3 linked regions of the Homo sapiens genome follow. The protein of the gene in region 3 interacts with the protein of the main gene of each other region in a pairwise test. Each region holds a gene or a part of one and is shown on either strand. Other genes may lie near its edges. The genes, in order: IFITM3, AIG1 and CD53.

Region 1 (3,485 bases), on a different chromosome or scaffold from region 3:
GGGAGCAGGGCCCATACCCGCTGGACGGGAGGGGGCAGCTGCCACGAAGCAGCACCTGGTCACCCAGGAGGGGCTGCGAGGCCCGGGGCTCCTTCAGCTGCTGCCCTGGGCACAAAGCCCCCTCCCTCCCACGGGCCCTGAGCTGCCCACATCTGCAGGACTGGCTGCTCCAGACAGCTCGGAGGCAGGCAGCGCGGTGCCCCCTCCACCCCGAGGAACTAAAGCCAGGTCCCCAGCACCACAGAGCAGGGCCTGGGAGCAGCTGGGGAGCCGGTGCCACCTTGCCCCTCCCTGGCCCTGCTGGGGGCTTAACCCTTCCCTCTGTCCTGAGCCGACAGCCTGGATTGCCGACAGGCCGCGAGCGTGGCCTTGGGCCCAGGGTGTCCCGGACTCAGCACTGACGTTCCCGGAAAGAGCCCACGTTGAGTAGGAGCTGAGACCTGCAGGACACAGGAACTCCTCCCAGGGTCCTGGATCCAGCTGCTGCTCACGGCAGGAGGCCCGAAACCAGAAGGCCTGAGCACTTGCCCGGTCCCCAAGAGATGCACAGAGGCCGGAAGGGGCAGTGCAGGGGCTGACCAACCTGCTCAGTCTCAGAACCACGCTCCGAACCCTCAGCCAGACCCCTCCCCAGGTGAAGTCGCAGCAGCACCAGAAACACGTGCACTTTATTGAATGCCATTGTAGAAAAGCGTGTGAGGATAAAGGGCTGATACAGGACTCGGCTCCGGGGGCAGGGCGAGGAATGGAAGTTGGAGTACGTGGGATACAGGTCATGGGCAGAGCTCCTGGCCTCAGTGATGCCTCCTGATCTATCCATAGGCCTGGAAGATCAGCACTGGGATGACGATGAGCAGAATGGTCATGAGGATGCCCAGAATCAGGGCCCAGATGTTCAGGCACTTGGCGGTGGAGGCATAGGCCTGGGCCCCGGTCACGTCGCCAACCATCTTCCTGTCCCTAGACTGGGGGAGAGGAGATGGTGAGGGGACCAGGATCCCCCAGCTGAGAGCCGCGTGCTATGGCTCCGTCTCCTCATTGGCTCTCCCCGCCCTGAGATCAGGGACCACCTCCTCCCCTTCCTCACCCGGGCTCAGACTCTCCAGGAGCCTCGGGGCTCATCCTCCTTCTGCCTTGACCTCAGCACAGGCTGTTCTCCCCACCATGGGGTGAAGTCACCTGTGAGTTCCCTTCTCACTTTCTGGGAGAGCCTGGGTGCCAGTCTGGAAGGTGAAGGTGTAATTTCTTACTGGGCTATAGGGAGAACTGCTCTGGGCTAGTGGATAGCCGGGGACAGACTCTGAGCCAGCCAGCCAGCCTCCTGGAGCCTCCTCCTAAACCTGCACTGGGCAGATTCCCCAAGCCACACACACACACAGATCACACAGACAAAGCCACTGACGTGGGCACACACGGGACAGAGGTGCACACAAACTCACAGTCACAGGGACACACAAGTCCCCACCCCAGGCAGCATGTGGGCAGGTGGAGCTCCAGGCTCAGCGGCACCCTCTGAGCATTCCCTGGGGCCATACGCACCTTCACGGAGTAGGCGAATGCTATGAAGCCCAGGCAGCAGGGGTTCATGAAGAGGGTGTTGAACAGGGACCAGACGACATGGTCGGGCACGGAGGTCTCGCTGCGGATGTGGATCACGGTGGACGTCGGGGGAGCAGGGTTGTGGGGCGCCCCCAGCACAGCCACCTCGTGCTCCTCCTTGAGCATCTCATAGTTGGGGGGCTGGCCACTGTTGACAGGAGAGAAGAAGGTTTGGACAGTGTGATTCATGGTGTCCAGCGAAGACCAGCGGCGGTCGGGTTACTGGGATGGTTCTCAGTGAGCCCTCCCTTTCCCCAGTAGTTTCGGTTTCTCAACAGTTTCCTTTTCCTGGCATTTGTCAAATCGGGATTTGGCCGGGGCCAGATGAGGGCGGAACAAATTCCTGAGGATCAAATTACTTTAGGAGAGGGAGGAAAGAGGGGCTGAGGGCTAAGAGGGGCTTCCTCTCTAGAGCCCAAGGGAGCACAAGGCTCATCTTGTTAGTGGTGTGGGGTCCTGGAGACTTCCCCTGTGTTGGGGGTCTCCACACCCCAGGCCAGCAGCTGCAGGACCCCACTGTCCCGGTTCAGGGCTCCTGCCAGGCCTGCGCTGACGCCTCCACACTCCAGGCCCCACAACCGTTCCCCCAAAGCCCTCACCTCTGCCGGGCGCCGCGGCTCACGCCTGTAATCCCAGCACTTTGGGAGGCTGAGGTGGGAGGATCATGAGGTCAGGAGATCGAGACCATCCTGGCTGACACGGTGAAACCCCGTCTCCCATAACCCTCACTGTGGTGCCCAGGCAGCTGGATTATCCCATTACCTTCACTATGGTGCCCAGGCAGCTGGATTATCCCATTACCTTCACTATGGTGCCCAGGCAGCTGGATTATCCCATTACCTTCACTATGGTGCCCAGGCAGCTGGATTATCCCATTACCTTCACTATGGTGCCCAGGCAGCTGGATTATCCCATTACCTTCACTATGGTGCCCAGGCAGCTGGATTATCCCATTACCTTCACTATGGTGCCCAGGCAGCTGGATTATCCCATAACCCTCACTGTGGTGCCCAGGCAGCCGGATTATCCCATTACCTTCACTATGGTGCCCAGGCAGCTGGATTATCCCATAACCCTCACTGTGGTGCCCAGGCAGCCGGATTATCCCATTACCTTCAGTGTGGTGCCCAGGCAGCCGGATTATCCCATTACCTTCAGTGTGGTGCCCAGGCAGCTGGATTATCCCATAACCCTCACTGTGGTGCCCAGGCAGCTGGATTATCCCATTACCTTCACTATGGTGCCCAGGCAGCTGGATTATCCCATAACCCTCACTGTGGTGCCCAGGCAGCCGGATTATCCCATTACCTTCAGTGTGGTGCCCAGGCAGCCGGATTATCCCATTACCTTCAGTGTGGTGCCCAGGCAGCTGGATTATCCCATTACCTTCACTATGGTGCCCAGGCAGCTGGATTATCCCATAACCCTCACTGTGGTGCCCAGGCAGCCGGATTATCCCATTACCTTCAGTGTGGTGCCCAGGCAGCCGGATTATCCCATTACCTTCAGTGTGGTGCCCAGGCAGCTGGATTATCCCATAACCCTCACTGTGGTGCCCAGGCAGCTGGATTATCCCATTACCTTCACTATGGTGCCCAGGCAGCTGGATTATCCCATAACCCTCACTGTGGTGCCCAGGCAGCCGGATTATCCCATTACCTTCAGTGTGGTGCCCAGGCAGCCGGATTATCCCATTACCTTCAGTGTGGTGCCCAGGCAGCTGGATTATCCCATAACCCTCACTGTGGTGCCCAGGCAGCTGGATTATCCCATTACCTTCACTATGGTGCCCAGGCAGCTGGATTATCCCATAACCCTCACTGTGGTGCCCAGGCAGCCGGATTATCCCATTACCTTCAGTGTGGTGCCCAGGCAGCTGGATTATC
Region 2 (3,750 bases), on a different chromosome or scaffold from region 3:
GAGACTCCATCTGGAAAAAAAGAAAAAAAAAATTTGTTTTGGAGTTATCAAAAAGATTCACATTTTTTAAAATCCAAAAATTATAGGAAAGAACCAGGTTCAGTAAACCCATTTTCAACAGGTAATAAAAATGAAAAGGAGATACTAATGCTGTTAGGATTTTGAGATGCACAATGCAGACGTCAGGTTCAGGGTGGCTTTGTCTTTATTAGTCAGCATTTGCATCTAGGAAAAGTTTCACATGATTAAATCAAGAGATGCAATACACTCAGGCTTTTCATGAAATTGACATCATTATTACAAATGGTGCTCATTTGAGGCAACTGTGACATTATGCAATGAGAAACATCTGTCCCCTTCCCTCTCAGGTCCCCATGGTGGCCTAGGTTCATGATTACAGCCACCTTTAGGATTAAATACACAAAAGCCTTACTCTATATATGCCCCTTTGACTTTAACATATTTCTCAAAAAGAAGTGCAATAAACTTTTATTCTTTCTTGATTAGATGGAGTTACAATTGCCAAAATAAAAATCCAAGGTCCAATTCTGGTTTTAAAACTAGAAAAGGAAAAAATGTTATTATCAGTAATGACTTTGGGAAGAATTCTTTAACACACAGTGAGGGTGAGTTCTTTTGGAAACAACTGTATTCTATGTTTATACATATTTATATATAAAAGGTGTCCTCATTGGGGGAGGGGGGTGCTGATGCCACCAAGTTCCTTTGAAGCCTTTTCTCCCCCACTGCCAATGCCCGAGGGGAAGGAGTCTTCAATGGCGGCTCAATCTAGCTCTTGCGTTTAGACTTGGATCTCATTCCAATTTAGGCTTTTCTTTCTCTTCTTCCATACCTAGAAATACAGGCAAAGTGTTTTATTTGAGCATCAGATTAAACCACAAGCAGTTTGTTTAATCTGGCTTGCTAACACTACTCACACATCCACTCATCTGCCCTCACTTCTCCCATTCACCCTCCTGACACACCCCCTATTCCCTCCTAGCTAAGAAGGAAAGCCATGCACAACTTTCTCCAGAAACATCCTCAGTGACCTCTCTTCCCCACCCTTTCCACAGAATCAGGACACAGCATCTCTGGGACACACCCAGCTCCTATGGCCTCTGGGAGACAAGGCTTCAAGTTGATTCATGACTTGCTGAGTTTGCATGGAAATCCCAGCTAGACTGCTTTTTAAACCAGCTTCTGGCAACATGAGGTGTGCAACTCATGAGTTTCAAACAGACTTCATTTATTTTTACTTTAGTCCTGTCTCTTCCTAAGGCAAGGACTTTGGATTTTAAAAAGCCATGCTTTTTTTTTTCTTGTTTTCTTTTTAAAGTTCATAGAGAGTTTATTAGCCATAAGAGCTGTTTATTTCCATACTCATGAATCTTAAACTGCAATTCTCTCTCTATTCAACCCAATCCTGGTAGAATCATGTTTTTCTTCCTGAAGGACTTGTATGTACTGGACCAGTAAGAACCTTTGCCTGTTGTCTGTAGAGAATAGTCGATGATGTTTCATGTTCCTGAAGATGAAAATGTTCATCATTTTTAGGAATTATAGTTAAATCTGGCAAGTGCTTCTTGCTTTTTTCTTTTTCTTGTACCTAAACATTTTTTGAATCATACCAAATTCTCAGTTTCTTTGTTTCAATAGCAAAAATGAAACAAAATAACTTAAAATACCACTTTGCAGGTTTTGTTAGTATTCTTTCATAAATTGCAAGCTTTCTGAGGGTAGGGCCCTTCCCTATTTTGTTCCCCAGCACCTAACATAGTGTGTGTGTCTCATTGCAGGAGCTCAATTAATCTTTGCTGAATAAAATTAATAAGCAATGAACACAGAGAAGACCTCAGAAGCCTGGACTAGTGGAAAGCAGAACAAAATATGGGACTCCACAATATGAAAATTATAAAATTTAACCCCAGAGGGTCATAATGTTAGGGCTTACAATAGGAAGGACTCCCCCACCACATAACCCCAGCTCCTGGTATATGTTTTGTGCTGTCAGAGTAGTGGTGGTGGAATGTGGGTAACGTGCTCTGAATGAATGTCCCCAGATGATCTTTTATGTTTGGTTTTCATGGCTAAGGAACTGGCAGAGATCTGGAGCACTTTTTCCAAAGTCCTTCTCAGAAATCCTATGAAGGAAAACTTCAAATTGAGGAGTAAGGACATCTGACGGGAGGAGGAACAGGTTTGAAGGCAAGAAGGTACAACACGCCTTCGTTGTTGGGTAACCACGGAAAGAAGAAAACAGCACAGATTCAGCTCAAACAGCACATGTGTCTTGAACCTCAGCTCTGTCCATATTCCCTCTCCTGTGGAGAAGCTATCAGGGGCTAAGAGCAGTTTGCTTTTCTTTTTAAAGTCTGTTTTTTCCAAAGCGTTCTCCTGCAGATGGGTTGACTTGGCAGCAGTGCTGGAATCTTCAAAAGCGCGGGTGGAGAACGGGGGGTATTCATTGACCTAGAGAGGGAAAATGGCTTCCCACCTACTTTAGTTTGGCAGCTGTGAGGTAGACAGAAAAAATTAGACAGCTGTAAATAATGTTTGCAAGAACCAGAGATAAAATTTCCAGGCAAAGGGCAGGAAGAAACCTATCGCAAAGCGAAGGCAGGATACACTTTTGGGACCAGAGGGGACAAGACTGCAGGGCGCTGAGGGAGTCAGTCACATGCCCTTCCTGCAGGCCGGTGGAGGGCTCCACCAGGGGGCAGTGCTGGGACATCGCTAGACCTGGATGGGCCTGGGGGGAAATGACCTGCACGGGTAGCTGGAGGAGAAGAGGTGCAGGTTTCTGCACACATAGACGTCTCCTGTCTCCCCGCTTGCCTACTTTCTCTGTCCTCACACCAACCTTTTGGTTTTGAAAAGACTCATTTCTGGTCTTACAAAATGTAGCTTTAGTAAGACTGGTCAGATATACCAAAATTGGGATAAAGTCTTAGCTTAAGTAAAGAAATATTTCAGCTGTGAATTGTGTCCCCCCCCGCGCTCCACCCCGCCAAACTGCTACATCGAAGTGCTTAACTCTCAGTACCTCAGATTGGGAGAGAATGCCAAGGGTGTGGCTGGACAGCCATGTGCTAACGAAATTAGGTACGTGACTCACGGATCCAATCAACCTCCACAGTAGATGCCAGAAATAGAGAGGTGGTTATCTGAAAAAGATCCGCGGAGTGCCCTCTTGTCTGACTGCTTGGACCCCCATGACTTGCATGGGAGGCCAATAAGGTTTTTGAGAATTTTATACCAGCAGAAACATTGACAGCATGGACTGAAAGGGACAGAGACAGGATGAAATGAAGGACCAATGGCTTCAAAGATGGTTCAGCGACTGGCTCCTCCTTGGTTGTAGAGGGTAGAACTATTGCCCAGGGCTGTGGGGGTGGGGCTCCTGTGACCCTGTGCCTGGAAGGCAGGGCTATGCATCCCCTCCCCTGTGAGCCCTGAGGACAGAACATCTAGCCAAAGAGGATTATTTTCAAGCCTTAAAATGGAATGGAATTTCCCCCGCTAGCTTCAGACTTGCTTGGGAACCATGATTCTTTCTTTTTTTTTCCCCCTGCAACTTCTCCCTTACAGAATGGGAATGTATATTCTATGCCTGTCCCACCATTCTGTTTTGGAAGCAGATAACTTTTTGTCTGGTTTCCCAGGTTCACACACAGCTAGAGAACAATTTTGCTTCAGGATGACTCATACCCTGAGTGTCACGCATACCCAATTTTATGATATTTAAGA
Region 3 (3,750 bases):
AAAACATTTGCCTTACCCCATGTCTGCTATCTTCCATCCTTTGCCATTAGTCTGACAACTATCTGAGAAGAGGGACTTTTTAAAAAATTCTTTCTCTTGGCTCCAGTTTAAGAGTTGACCCATACAGACTGGGCGCAGTGGCTTACGCCTATAATCCCAACACTTTGGGAGGCCGAGGCAGGTGGATCACCTAAAGTCGGGAGTTAGAGACCAGCTTGACCAATATGGAGAAACCCTGTCTCTACTAAAAATTCAGAATTAGCCGGACATGGTGGCGCATGACTGTAATCCCAGCTACTCGGGAGGCTGAGGCAGGAGAATGGCTTGAACCCGGGAGGCGGAGGCTGTGGTGAGCTGAGATCATGCCATTGCACTCCAGCCTGGGCAACAAGAGTGAAACTCCATCTCCAAAACAACAACAAGAAGAAAAAAACAAAACAAAAAACCACCACCAAAATGTTGAACCATAATGGAAAAAAGATTAACCAAATGATTTAAGGAAGAACCAATGTGATTAGAAACCCACGCCTATTGGTAGAGTGGCACTGTTACACCAAGCTCTGTTCTGGGAACACTACAGAAATGTAGAGCTCAGTGCTCTACAGGCACTGTGCTTACAGGCAAAACCTAAGCCTTAAGGTACTCCTCAGGATAGTACCTGATAGGGAACATGCAAAAGGCTGTAGCATCTCTCACATTAGACCTCAATGGCTGCAGCCAGAGCCCTCACCTAAGTTGGATCTCTCTACGGAGTATCTTGTGCAGACATGAGTTAAGGAAGCATCCTTTGGCATTTGGGGAGGAAAGAGCCTAGAAATTATTTTCCATTAGTTAGCGACTCTCAGTCAGAATCTGAAAGTACATAATAATAGCTAGCATGAGGAGGATTTTGGAAGATGGATGACACCTGATTTCATCCAGACATAAAGAAAAAATAAAATGCTATAAAGGGGAATTACAATAATGACAAAAGTCATTATTAGCAATATAAAAATGGCTACAAGGGGGATAGCAATGCCCTCTTTCACCTGTCCGTGGGACCCTAGTCATACATAATATACTATTGGTCTGGGCAGACTTGGCTGATCTGAGGTACCAATCTCATTTTCCTATGATCTTTCTGTGCCTATAAGTGATCTACCAAGAAACATCTTGCCTGGGATTTAGGCACCATCTCCCCGACTTGGGGCACCACATCTGCTGTAAGGACTCACCGACATAAGCAGACACTTGTTTTCCTTGATAGAGCCCATGCAGCCCAGGAAGGCAACTACCATGATAATAGAGCCCACGATGACAAACACATTGCCCAGCGTGAGGGAGGGGAGGTTATGGAAGAGCACTCCGAAGTTGTTGTGGATCAGCAGGTAGATCCCAAAGCCCAAAATGCAGCAGCCACAGATCTGAAAGGAAGAATCCCACAACATCCTGAAGCAAAATGTGGTTCTTGGGTATCTCCTCATATTCTCACTTCCTTGAGATCAGAATCACTTTATTTTTAACTGGCTCAATCAAGAGTCTCATGAACAATTTCTTTACCAAACTTTTCCATGCTTACATTGGAGAGGCAATCTCAGCTTTCTCATGTGGAGACCTACTCACAACTCTTCCTACCCATCTCCAGATACCAAGGAAAGATCACTTCTGTGAGCCACACAGTATCTTCACCATATATAGGTCTAACTTCTTTTTCCTTATCTTTTCAGTCGCTCACACATGGCTTTCTCTGTAGAAACCATGACCATGTAGAGAAGATGCCCTGCTTGAGGAAGCTCATCTTGCTAGGCAGAAAACTAGAGAAGCCAAACTTATAATAATCTTCTCATATACACAAGTACCAACCCATCCTATATCTGAAATTCAATTGCTGAATTTTATACAGTGAAACCTCCCTGGAAAGGGTGACTTTCCTTTCAATCACTTATTGTTTCAAGGAATCTAGAAAAAAAGACAAGAAAAACAGAGGCACTCAATATCCAGAGCACAGTCTCAGGTTTCTCACCTATATATGTTAGCTACGAGTAGTAGTAAACTAAAGCCCTCAGAGAGAAACAGCACCTCCATTAATAACTGCACTGGTACCTTTCAATTTTGCAGGTTTATTCTGTGGCAGGAAGAGGGGAAAAATTATTACTCTTTTGTTTCTAGGATGGTTGTGCTGGACATGACCCAAACACGCATGCATTTTACCCCACACCAGCCTCTTCAGTAGAGGAATGAGGAGAGCTTAGCTGGGTAAAGGTGAGCTAAACCGTGCTCAGAAGAGATACACTTACCCAAAAGAGCAAGTTGAAGAAAAACAGGACATACTTCAGCAGTTTCAAGCTACTCATGCCCATGCCGTGATATTCTTGCCCTAAGGAATAAGGAAGAAGAAAGTAAGTTACCTCACTCTGTAAGGTAGCCAGAGATCAGAGTGCACAAATGTTCAGGGATCTCTAGCATTACCTTGGGTTTGAGCTGTGGCTCTCCTCTGGAAAGTTTCCCCAAACTCTGCGCTTTCCTAGTTCTAAACTGAAATACCAACTGGCTCATCTTAGACATTCAGTTTTTGCCCAATTCGGCAAGCCAACAATGCTTAACATTGAATTAAGTATTGTAGAAGAAAATAGAGCCATTCTTAGAAGAGGATGAGTCACAGTGACAGAGACCAGGCCAGTGCTTTAGCTCTAACTGCAGCATTAGCAACTAGTGCCTGGGCACTTAAGCCCTTGAAGTCAGGGATGGACTGGTCAATCAGCCATCAAGAAAGCCAACAGCTTGATCAGCCAGTTTCTTAAATACTCTGTGATTTATGTACATGCTACATTTGATCAGTAAACTTCTCCACATGAAAGTAGGGGGAACATATCCACGCCTCATTTATTCTTTTATTGCAGAAACATTTATGTTTTCTGTTCTAGATGTTGTGGAAGATGCAACCATGACTAAGCAGTAGCTATCCTCCAGAAGACAACAGTCTTACAGCAAAGATAAAACAAGCCAACAAATATGCAATGGGGAAGTAAAAAGAGATAGCAATGTAAGCTTTATTTTTTTCAACTAGAATATCATTTTCTTAGTGAGGACATCAATGTCCAATGTCTGGTTCTCAATTCTAGAAATCCAGATACAGAATTTTGACTTTTCCTTTTCGCTTTCCTTTCCTTTCTCTTTCTCTTTCTCTCTTTCTTTCTTTCTTCTTTCAGGGTCTCAATCTGTCACCCAGGCTGGAGTGCAGTGGCACAATCTCAATTCACTGCAACCTTCACCTCCCAGGCTCAAGTGATCCTCCCACCTCAGCCTCCCAGGTAGCTGAGACTAAAGGCATGCACCATCATGCCCGGATAATTTTTGTATTTTTAGTAGAAACGAAGTTTCACCATGTTGCCTAGTCTGGCCTCAAACTTCTGACCTCAGGTGATCCGCCTGCCTCGGCCTCCCAAAGTGCTGGGATTACAGGCATGAGCTACCGCACCTGGCCAGAATTTTGAATTTTCTGTCAGAGGTAATGATATTCTATAAAGTGACTCATTTTTAAAACCGTGCACAGGACTGATATATCAAGCAGAATGTTGGGGCAGTGATTTTTTTCCATTAAAATTATGCCTTTTCCAGTGCATGGGTCACTTGTGCAATCCATAGTATCTCCTTTGCAGTTTCAAGGTACCTGGGAATCACATGGTCTTGAGGGAATAGTTCATCCAGGCTGTAGATAAGCCTGATGAGCTACTTCTCTTCCACAATAAAGTGAATTTCTCTGTTGTAAAC

The links.
Region 1: the proteins of CD53 (region 3) and IFITM3 interact in binary tests that used the Homo sapiens proteins (3 or more experiments, as listed by UniProt).
Region 2: the proteins of CD53 (region 3) and AIG1 interact in binary tests that used the Homo sapiens proteins (3 or more experiments, as listed by UniProt).

Annotation. Positions count from the first base shown.
Region 1 is NC_000011.10:319,026-322,510, forward strand, and holds IFITM3 (interferon-induced transmembrane protein 3), read right to left. Parts: upstream 1,836-3,485; 5' UTR 1,789-1,835; coding exon 1,540-1,788; intron 966-1,539; coding exon 813-965; 3' UTR 651-812; downstream 1-650.
Region 2 is NC_000006.12:143,336,742-143,340,491, reverse strand, and holds part of AIG1 (androgen-induced gene 1 protein), read right to left. Parts: intron 2,515-3,750; coding exon of another isoform or gene 2,498-2,514; exon of another isoform or gene 854-2,497; coding exon 816-853; 3' UTR 1-815. UniProt on the Homo sapiens protein: Hydrolyzes bioactive fatty-acid esters of hydroxy-fatty acids (FAHFAs), but not other major classes of lipids. Show a preference for FAHFAs with branching distal from the carboxylate head group of the lipids.
Region 3 is NC_000001.11:110,889,998-110,893,747, reverse strand, and holds part of CD53 (leukocyte surface antigen CD53), read right to left. Parts: intron 2,357-3,750; 5' UTR 2,340-2,356; coding exon 2,277-2,339; intron 1,404-2,276; coding exon 1,215-1,403; intron 1-1,214. UniProt on the Homo sapiens protein: Structural component of specialized membrane microdomains known as tetraspanin-enriched microdomains (TERMs), which act as platforms for receptor clustering and signaling.